Linked DNA regions of Homo sapiens: region 1 is linked to region 2. A link means that fine-mapping ties the variant in region 2 to the expression of a gene that starts in the linked region. Tissue or cell type: testis. Region 2 holds a variant in brackets; the other region holds the start of a gene. All regions are shown on one strand. Distances are between the middles of the regions. Region 1 holds the start of ODAD2 (outer dynein arm docking complex subunit 2). Region 2 overlaps ODAD2 (outer dynein arm docking complex subunit 2).

What was found. PIP is the estimated chance that this variant, and not a neighbour inherited with it, causes the effect.
Region 1: it holds the start of ODAD2, and the variant in region 2 is fine-mapped to the expression of ODAD2 in testis (GTEx, PIP above 0.99).

What each region holds. Positions count from the first base shown.
Region 1 is chr10:27,997,239-28,001,629 of GRCh38, reverse strand. ODAD2 (outer dynein arm docking complex subunit 2) reads left to right here and starts at 2,551. Exons shown (of 20, transcript NM_018076.5): 1 at 2,551-2,636.
Region 2 is chr10:27,966,923-27,971,313 of GRCh38, reverse strand. It overlaps ODAD2 (outer dynein arm docking complex subunit 2), which reads left to right. Exons shown (of 20, transcript NM_018076.5): 8 at 1-206; 9 at 2,296-2,391. Among named protein-coding and RNA genes, the nearest start is that of ODAD2, 30 kb to the left of the region's middle. The variant G/A (reference allele first, on the strand shown) is at 2,391.

The sequences.
Region 1 (4,391 bases), 30 kb before region 2:
GTTCACAATAGGGTTCATGCTTCTATGAGAACCTAATGCCACTGCTGATCTGACAGAAGGTGTGGCGTGTGGGTGGGGTCCCTGCTGTAGATGACGTAATGTTGCGGAGGTGGACCAAAAACTATCAAGTTTTTCCCAGGAGCCTGTGGCAGATTTTCTCTAAAGTTTCAGTGGACAGCGCTGCACCATGTGCTTGCACTCTAGCCATGGGCAGGGCTGGTAAAGGCCTCTGGTACAGCAAACCCCGGGTGTGCCCTCAGTGATGAAGGCTCTTTCCAAGATCACGGCTACTTAGAATCCTCAGGCTGGTTCTATTAACCCTAAGAAAATGTGGGCCTTGCCTTTCTGGTGCTTGGTGAAGAGTGTCAGGAAGCAAGGCATCTTTGACTAGGCGATTCATGAATTTAGCTCCTTCTACGTGCCAGTCATCCTTCTAGATCTTAGGAGTACAGACTTGAAGGAGGCAGAAAAGCTCCCTATTTTCATAAAGCTTACCTTGTAGGGGTAGCAGATGGGCAACAAGGCAAAGACAAGTTATGGCCAGGCACAGTGGTTCATGGCTGTAATCCCAGTGCTTTCGGAGGCCATGGCTGGAGGATCACTTGAGCCCAGGAATCAGAGGCTGCAGTGAGCTATGCTTATGATTATGTCACTGCACTCTGCACTCCAGCCTGGGTGACAGAATGAGACCTCGTCTCAAAAAAAAAAAAAAGAAAAAAAAAAAACAAGTCATGATAAATCCTTCAGGGAGTGACTGGGCCCAGGTAGTGTTTCATCACGACAAGGAAAAATTGGAAAGAGGCGACTGGGACTTCTTCAGATTTAAATATTATTAAGTTATTTTTGCTTGGAAAATATCCGGTAAAATAAATTCACATTTTGGCATCAGATTAAGCAACTTGGCATGAATTTGGCAAACAACGACATAGTTGCTCAGATCTTGGTGGGTTCTGGCTTTTTCCAGCTTTGCAAACCAAGGTGAAATGTCCTGAACTTGGAAGATCTCTGGCTGGCATCCACATTGGACCCAGTAATGCTCCCTTATGTCATACAGCTGATTAAAATGTGCAGAGGAACTAAAGTACCCACAGAAGCTTCCTTGCTTCCAGGACTGGGACTACTCCAGGATCCTTCCGAAGGATGCCCTCTGCTCCTCACCAGGTTGTGACCTGCATTACCGCCACAGGTGTGATGCTGTTGTCTCAGACTGTAATCCACCCATTTTTAAAAGGGCTTCTCTGTATACCTATTAGCATAAGCCCCTTTCTCACTGGTTGCAAGTCTAAGCTTCTCTGCAGGTAGTATCTCCTTTAGGTGAAACTATTCCATTCCTAACAACTTTCGCACTTTCAAAAAGAGAAGAAAAGAACCCAAAACAGGCCAGGCATGGTGGCTCATGCCTGTAATCCTAGCACTTTGGGAGGCCGAGGTGGGTGGATCACTTGAGGTCAGGAGTTCAAGACCCACCTGGCCAACATGGTGAAACTTCGTCTCTACTAAAAGTACAAAAATTAGCCGGGCATGGCGGCGCATTCTTGTAATCCCAGCTACTCAGGAAGCTGAGGGGGGAGGATCTCTTGAACCCGGGAGGCAGAGGTTGCGGTGAGCCGAGATGGGAGGCAGAGGTTGCGGTGAGCCGAGATCGTGCCACTGCACTCCAGCCTGGGTGATAGAGCCAGACTTCGTCCCCCACCCTCCAAAAAACCCAAAACAAAGGACAAATATCTATACCTCATATCCCTACGTGTTTGCAGAAAGGTTCTGCTTTGAGCTGAATCCGTATAATATTATGACAGGTGATATCCTAACATCATTCCACATTTGCCTCTTTGGCATCCGGAAAAGAATCCAGTTTTAATTCCTAAACACCCCATCATCCTAAGTGCTCCGGCATTGGTCCTTAAACACCGTGTCCCCCCACCCCAAGATAGTGCATTCTTCCCCATCCCCCCCCACCTCAATATTCCCACTCCTTTATCCCTCACTGGTGTTCCAGTTGGGGCTCTTGCTGGTAGGGTGTCTAGAGGTGGGGTCAAAACCATCTTAATGGACAAAGGTAAAGGCCATTTAAAAAAAGAGATGGGGGACATGTTTTCATTTCACTCCGATCCTCTGCCCTATTGAAGAGCGCTTTCTGCTTTCCCGGTGAGTATCAGAGTATTCTACCATATTTGTTTTTTTGGAGAGAAACATGTAAGCCTCAAATATCCTAGGAGAAGCCCTATGCTATTTGGGGGTACTCAGTGAAGATTTCAGGTACATACAACGCACTTGTCTGGAAGCCTATGGAAAAATGTAAAAAGGGGTTTCTAAGGAATATTTTCTGCTTCCTTTCTGCTCCATTTTAAGTTTTCTGCTAACTTGCCGCCGACCCCGCAACTGCTCACGACCTCTGTCAAAGTCAACCTTTCCCACCGCGTGGAGTGAGTTAGGGTGCACACTCGGGAGTTGCATAAAAGTGTTTGAGAAAGGGAGATGCAAAGTTGAATAAAAGTGTTTCCCGGGAGGGGCCGAGCGGAAAGCAGCAGGTGGCCGGGGCGGGTGGAACCCAGCGCGGGCGCAGAGCGTCTCTGGCGCGGGCATACGGTGCAACGGGTCCGCGGGAATCTTGGATGCGCGGAGGTCCCGAGACCAGGGTAACGGACTGGGCTGCGGTCGCGGCCGGGTGAGGCTGGGAGCGGAAGGCGGCGGCGGCGGCGCCCGGGGGAGGGCACGGGCCCTGTAGGCCTCCCACAAGGGCGCCGGCGTGCGCGGCCGCAGGGCGCGCAGTGTTGACCCGCGTCCTAGCAACAGGCGGGCGCCGACTGCGGGGGGCAGGGTGCTGCAGGTGAGTGCGGCTGGGGGTCTCCACGCTCACCCCCGCAGGGGTTCTGCAGCCGCCCGCGTGGATCGGGAAACAGAGGCGGCTCTCTGGCCCCGCCGCTGCCGCTCTCGCCTGCTCCCCTTTCCCTCCCGGGGACCAAGACCCGCCCCCTTCCCTTCTCTCTCCCAGCCCCATCTCACTCCTTCCTCCCCGCGAGACCCTGCCTCGGCCCTAGGTTGGGGACCGTCTGCTCCTCAGTCCCTGCGCCCCTCTCTGCACTACCTCGGCCCCATCACCTCCCGGATCCGCTCTCCACTTCTCCCGCCGCTTCCCTGCCTCTCCTTCCCCCAGCCCGTCTTTCTCCTCCGCCCTTTGCAGCTCTGCCTCCCGCTCCCAGCGTGGTTTTCGCCGTCCCTTCCCTCCTCGTCCCCTTACCGAATCCATTCCTGGAAACTTAGGGTCTCAGCTCTGACGCCCCCTTCTTGTAACGAGTCTGGTGGGGGCCGTCATCCCACACTAGGCTTAGCTTTGGTTTTACTTAGGGCCCTGTTCATGTCATGTCTAAAAGTTCGATTTTCTGTCGGTCTTACTGAGTAACTTCTGCATTCTCAGAAAGCAGTGTATGCGCGGACTCCCCGTGGATGTTACCAACCACATTTCATAGATCTCAGAGCTGATGGCTGCCTTTCCGTAGCCCCCTAAAGAATTCGGTTGTGCTTCTGTTTAAGTGTTAACGATGTGATTACCGAATGGGTTTCATTTCACTAATGATGCTGGAAGCTTGAAATTGACCTTTAGAAAGAAAAACAATCTGTGGTATCTATTGGATAAAGAGAAAAATGAGTGCTAAGTGATTCCCAGTTTATGTAAACATCCCAGTTTATGTAAACACGTAACCAAAACTTTTTTCCTTTTAATCTTTAAACTTACTTTCTTTACTTCAAAGGTGTGTGCTGTGTATTTACATGGATTCATTTTAACTATGGTTCTTAAGCCAAAAGAGCTTGGCAATGGGCAGAAACCGGGGAGCAACTGGTCTTGATTTTAAAATCTTAGTTTTGAGTTATGCCGACCATTTTTGAACACCATTTATTTATTTATTTATTTTCTAATAACATTGATCTTGCCTTCTGGATTGTCATAGGCCACCCTGAGGTTTTCTTAAACTCACCAACCTTCTTGAATAAAACTTGTGCATTGCTACGGTTCACTAGACTTGGAAATACAATTTGAATAGATTCAAATGTTACATTTCTGTCAAAATTTATCTTGACGAAAATAACGATTTTGCATTTCTTAATTCTGTGTTAAGGGTCCTTCAAGAAGTTACTATATGGTATGTTGACTACCATAGCGTTACATAATCTATTTAATTTCGCATTTTTTCTTTAAAAATGTGCAAGAAGCAATCTTTATAAGATTACCAAAACAAATGTTATACTTAAGATTAAAGACAGACAGAACTTTCACCTAAGCCTTTCTGTATAAGATAAAGCTATTTGCACTTATTTCACACTATTTTACACTGATTTGCACTTATTTTACACAACAATGGGAAATTCAAGAGTCTCACACATACACATCAGAA
Region 2 (4,391 bases):
GGAATTAGCTTCAGTGAAGACCAGCAAAAGGAAAAGGATCAGCTTGGCAAAGCCCCCAAGAAGGAAGAAGCAGCTGCCCTCCGCAAAGACATTTCTGGTTCAGACAAAAGGTCACTGGAGAAGAACCAAATTAATTTTTGGAGGAATCAAATGACCAAGAGATGGGAACCAAGCTTAAACTGGAAGACCACTGTTAATTACAAAGGGTATGTAGATATTTGCATTTGTTTTCAGATGCAGCATTAGTAACCATACTCACCTAATTTTTCACAGAACTTTATTTTATTTTATTTTGTTTGTTTGTTTATTTATTTATTTATTTATTTATTTATTTATTTATTTAAGATGGAGTCTTGCTCTGTTGCCCAGGCAGGAGTGCAGTGGTGCCATCTCAGCTCACTGCAACTTCTGCCTCCTGAGTTCAAGTGATTCTCCTGCCTCAGCCTCCTGAGTAGCTGGGATTACAGGCACATGCCACCACGCCTGGCTAACTTTTTATTTTTTGTAATTTTAGTAGAGACAGGGTTATACCATGTTGGCCAGACTGGTCTCAAACTCCTGACCTCAAGTGATCTGCCCACCTCAGCCTCCCAAAATGCTGGGATTACAGGCATGAGTCACTGCGTCTGGCCAGAACTTTATTTTATAATAGAAAAATATTGAATATATATTTACATGTCCCTCCAAGGCGCAGGTTGATTCCTTTCTGCTCCTCTTTGTATTCTAAGCAGAAAGATTTGATAGAGTTTATGTGTGGAGCACTGTGAAGGGAAGAGAAGAACACAATTCACTTTTATATAGTTGGTGAGTCAGGACAAGTAATATGCAGAAAAGATGATAAAACACTTGGAGCAGTCACAGGGGAAATGTAAAAATCATGCTAGAGACCTGGTTAAGTAAGCACTGGGAGAATGTGGAATGATGAAAATTATATGGAGCTAATCAGCGAAACTGTCATAGAGATAATGTCTAACAGAACTTTAATACCATGAAAAGGCTAGAGTCTCAAAAATATGAATGGACCTATATAAAGTGGACACTGGCTTGATGAATGTATGAAATATACAAAACAAGTGCCATTTAGGACCTTCTATAAACAGGCGTCAAAGCAAAAATTGAGGGCCAATGCTACGTAAATGCTGGGGCAGTCAGAAATACCTAGAGATTTATTTATTTATTTATTTATTTATTTATTTATTTATTTATTTATTTTTTGAGACAGAATCTCGCTGTCACCCAGGCTGCAGTGGCACAAACTTGGCTCACTGCAACCTCTGCCTCCCAGGTTCAAGCGATTCTCTTGCTTCAGCCTCCCGAGTAGCTGGGATTACAGGTGTGTGACACCACGGCTGGCTAATTTTTGTATTTTTAGTAGAGATGGCGTTTTGCCATGTTGGCCAGGCTAGTCTCAAACTCCTGAGCTCAAGTAATCCGCCCACTTCTGCCTCCCAAAGTGCTGGGATTACAGGTGTGAGCCACTGCACCCAGCCCACTTTTTAAAGCTTAACAAATAGTTTACAAGTTGCAGCCTGTAGGTGATATTCTATGTTGTCCCATTTTTGGGTTAAGAACTGATTCCTGGTTGATCACACAGGGACCTTCTCCTGCAGGGATTCTGGGAATCACAGGGTCATTGTGTTTTGGAAGCAAACCCAGAGAGCTGTTTGAAGAACGGAGTCATGTGGAGAGGGGAGACACTGGCTCCTCTGATTGATTCTCATCAATTTTGGGGTGTTTGACTTTTGTGGCTCTGTTTGAAAGAGTCAATGTGAAAATGAAAAATGCATGGGCAACTTTTTTAACTGGCAAGTGAGTTTTAAAATACTGCTTTTTCCATATTCTTACTCTTTCAAGCATGAGATTCCTTAGCAGGTATTCAAGGGAGAACACAGAATGCCAAGGACTATGCAAAGCCTGCGAATACCTGGAAAACCAGGTGCAGGCCCTGTTGCAACGTTGGGTGGGGAAGATAAGAAAATAGAAAACTATAATTGGCGGCGATACATACCTAGAGTAGAAGGCATCGGGTGCAGGATTCACACCAACAGTGGCAGCCTGTGAAGACCTGTTCCTAGGTGCTGGACAGAAAGTTTCTTCAATATGTAAAACATAGGGCTGTGCTGAAAGAGTGAAAGAGACAGCTCCGAGTGTCAGAATGAGGCTGGAACTCTTGTCAGGAACACGCATCATTTGAGCACATGGAAATAACGGAGTATATATCTACATTGCCATCTTTTATTTTTTATTAATTAGCATAAAGCAATAAAGCTAATATATTTGTATATTTTTTTAAAGCAAAGGCTCAGCAAAAGAAATCCAAGAGGACAAACACACAGGAAAACTTGAAAAACCAAGACCATCTGTTTCACACGGAAGAGCACAATTACTTC[G/A]GTATGTTTCTGGTCAGCAAGACGAGTTCCCTAAAGCCACCCTCACGCAGTGGGCTACTGAGCATGCAAATTAATGGCATCCTTCCTATTAGGGTCCCCAGATGTTTACACTGACGGTTACTAGGAATGTTAGTAAAAGTGGTCACACTGGATTTCTTTAAATACTTTTTCAAGATATTCTTCTAATGCAGTTACCCAAAATACAGTGATTTACTAGTATTAGTTGACTGTGGGAAAAGAAATGTATTTAATGCAAAGAGCAGTGACCTAAGTTTAGGAACACTGGGCTCTTAACTGATGTCTTGCCTCTGAACAATCATGTCCTGGCAAAGTTATGTATCTGTCTGAGCCTCCCTTTGCTGATCACAAAAGACTGCCGATTTTGAAGTGGTCTATGTTATTGCTAACGAAAACAATTAAAAATTGAATATGAGGCCAACTAGTAAATTTTTACTTGATTTTCAGTTTGACAAAAAAAGTGACATGTCTGGAAGATAAGGGTCAGCCACTTTTATTAGCTTCAGAGTGGTGGATATTAGCGCTTTTGTTACAATCTCACAGTTCCTTGAGGCTGCGTTCACTGATTTTTTCAGTTATTTTTTTCTCTACGTTGTTCAGATTGAGCCAATTCTGTTGTTCTATCTTCAAGTTCATTTATTTTTTCTTCTGTCCTATTCTTCTGCTAATTTCATTCAGTGAGTTTTTAATTTCACTTATAATTTTTAGTTCCAAAATTTCCATTTGGTTTTTCTTTTCTATCTTCTCTTTCTTTGCTGAGACTTTCTATTTTTTTCATTTGTTTCAAGCATGTTCATATAGCTTGTTGAAATATTGTTATGATGGTGCCTTTCATATCTTTGTCAGATAATTCATACTTCTTCATCACCTTGATATTGGCATTTTAAAATTGTCTTTTCTCATTTAAGATGAGATCTTCCCCATTCTTGGTATGACAAATAATTTTCAGTTGAAATGTAGACATTTTGGTTATTATGAGACACTGGATCTTATTTAAATTATTTATTTATTTATTTGAGACAGAGTCTTGTCTGTCACCCAGGCTGGAGTGCAGTGGTACAATCTTGGCTCAGTGCAACCTCCGCCTCCCGAGTTCAGGCAGTTCTTCTGCCTCAGCCTCCTGAGTAGATGCAATTACAGGCGTGCGCTACCACACTCAGCTAATTTTTTTATTTTTAGTAGATACGGGGTTTTGCCATGTTGGCCAGGCTGGTCTTGAACTCCTGACCTCAAGTGATCTGCCTGCCTCGGCCTCCCAAAGTGCTGGGATTACAGATGTGAGCCACTGCACCTGGCCTAAATCTTTTATTTTAGAAGGCCTTCTCTGCCACCATATTGGCAGGATGAGGTATGTGTTGCTTCTCCAGGCTGGTGAGGAATTGAAATAGCAGGTTTTCCCATAGGCCTTCACTGATGCCTGGGGGGTCAGGCAAGGGAGTCCTCATTATTTCTGGAGGGTAGTGGGAGTTCATGCTCCACCTATGCCTCTGCTGATACCAGCCGGACAGTGTGACGGGGGAGTCCTTCGTTACTTTGTCAGTGGGCTCTACTGATATCACAGTTCGGATAAGTGACTTCATTTTTGCCACGATGTAGTGAGCATCTGACTCCCTGTCAGGCCTTCTCTGAGGCCACCCCAGCAGGTGGGTTGCAGCGCTTTCTTACAGTCTGATAAAGGTAGAGCCCTAGGCTCTTCACTTGGCCTTTGCTATAAGAGGTAGACTTGGGCCACGCTGTTATGTGTGGTCTTGATTGAGATAGATCATTTGTTGTCTAAACATTTTCTGTCTTATTAGGCTTTCCTTTTCTGGCCCTTTGAATTAGACAGAGCAGGACTTTCTTAGGTCCTTTTTTTGCCTGCACCTCCTGGAGTTTCTGCTTTGCCGGCTTTTCCAGTACCCAGTCTAGGAAGAATGAGACAAAAAGAAAACCCAGGGAATGCACCGCTGTGTTGAGCCACAGGTCTTCAGATCCCTAGGTAGT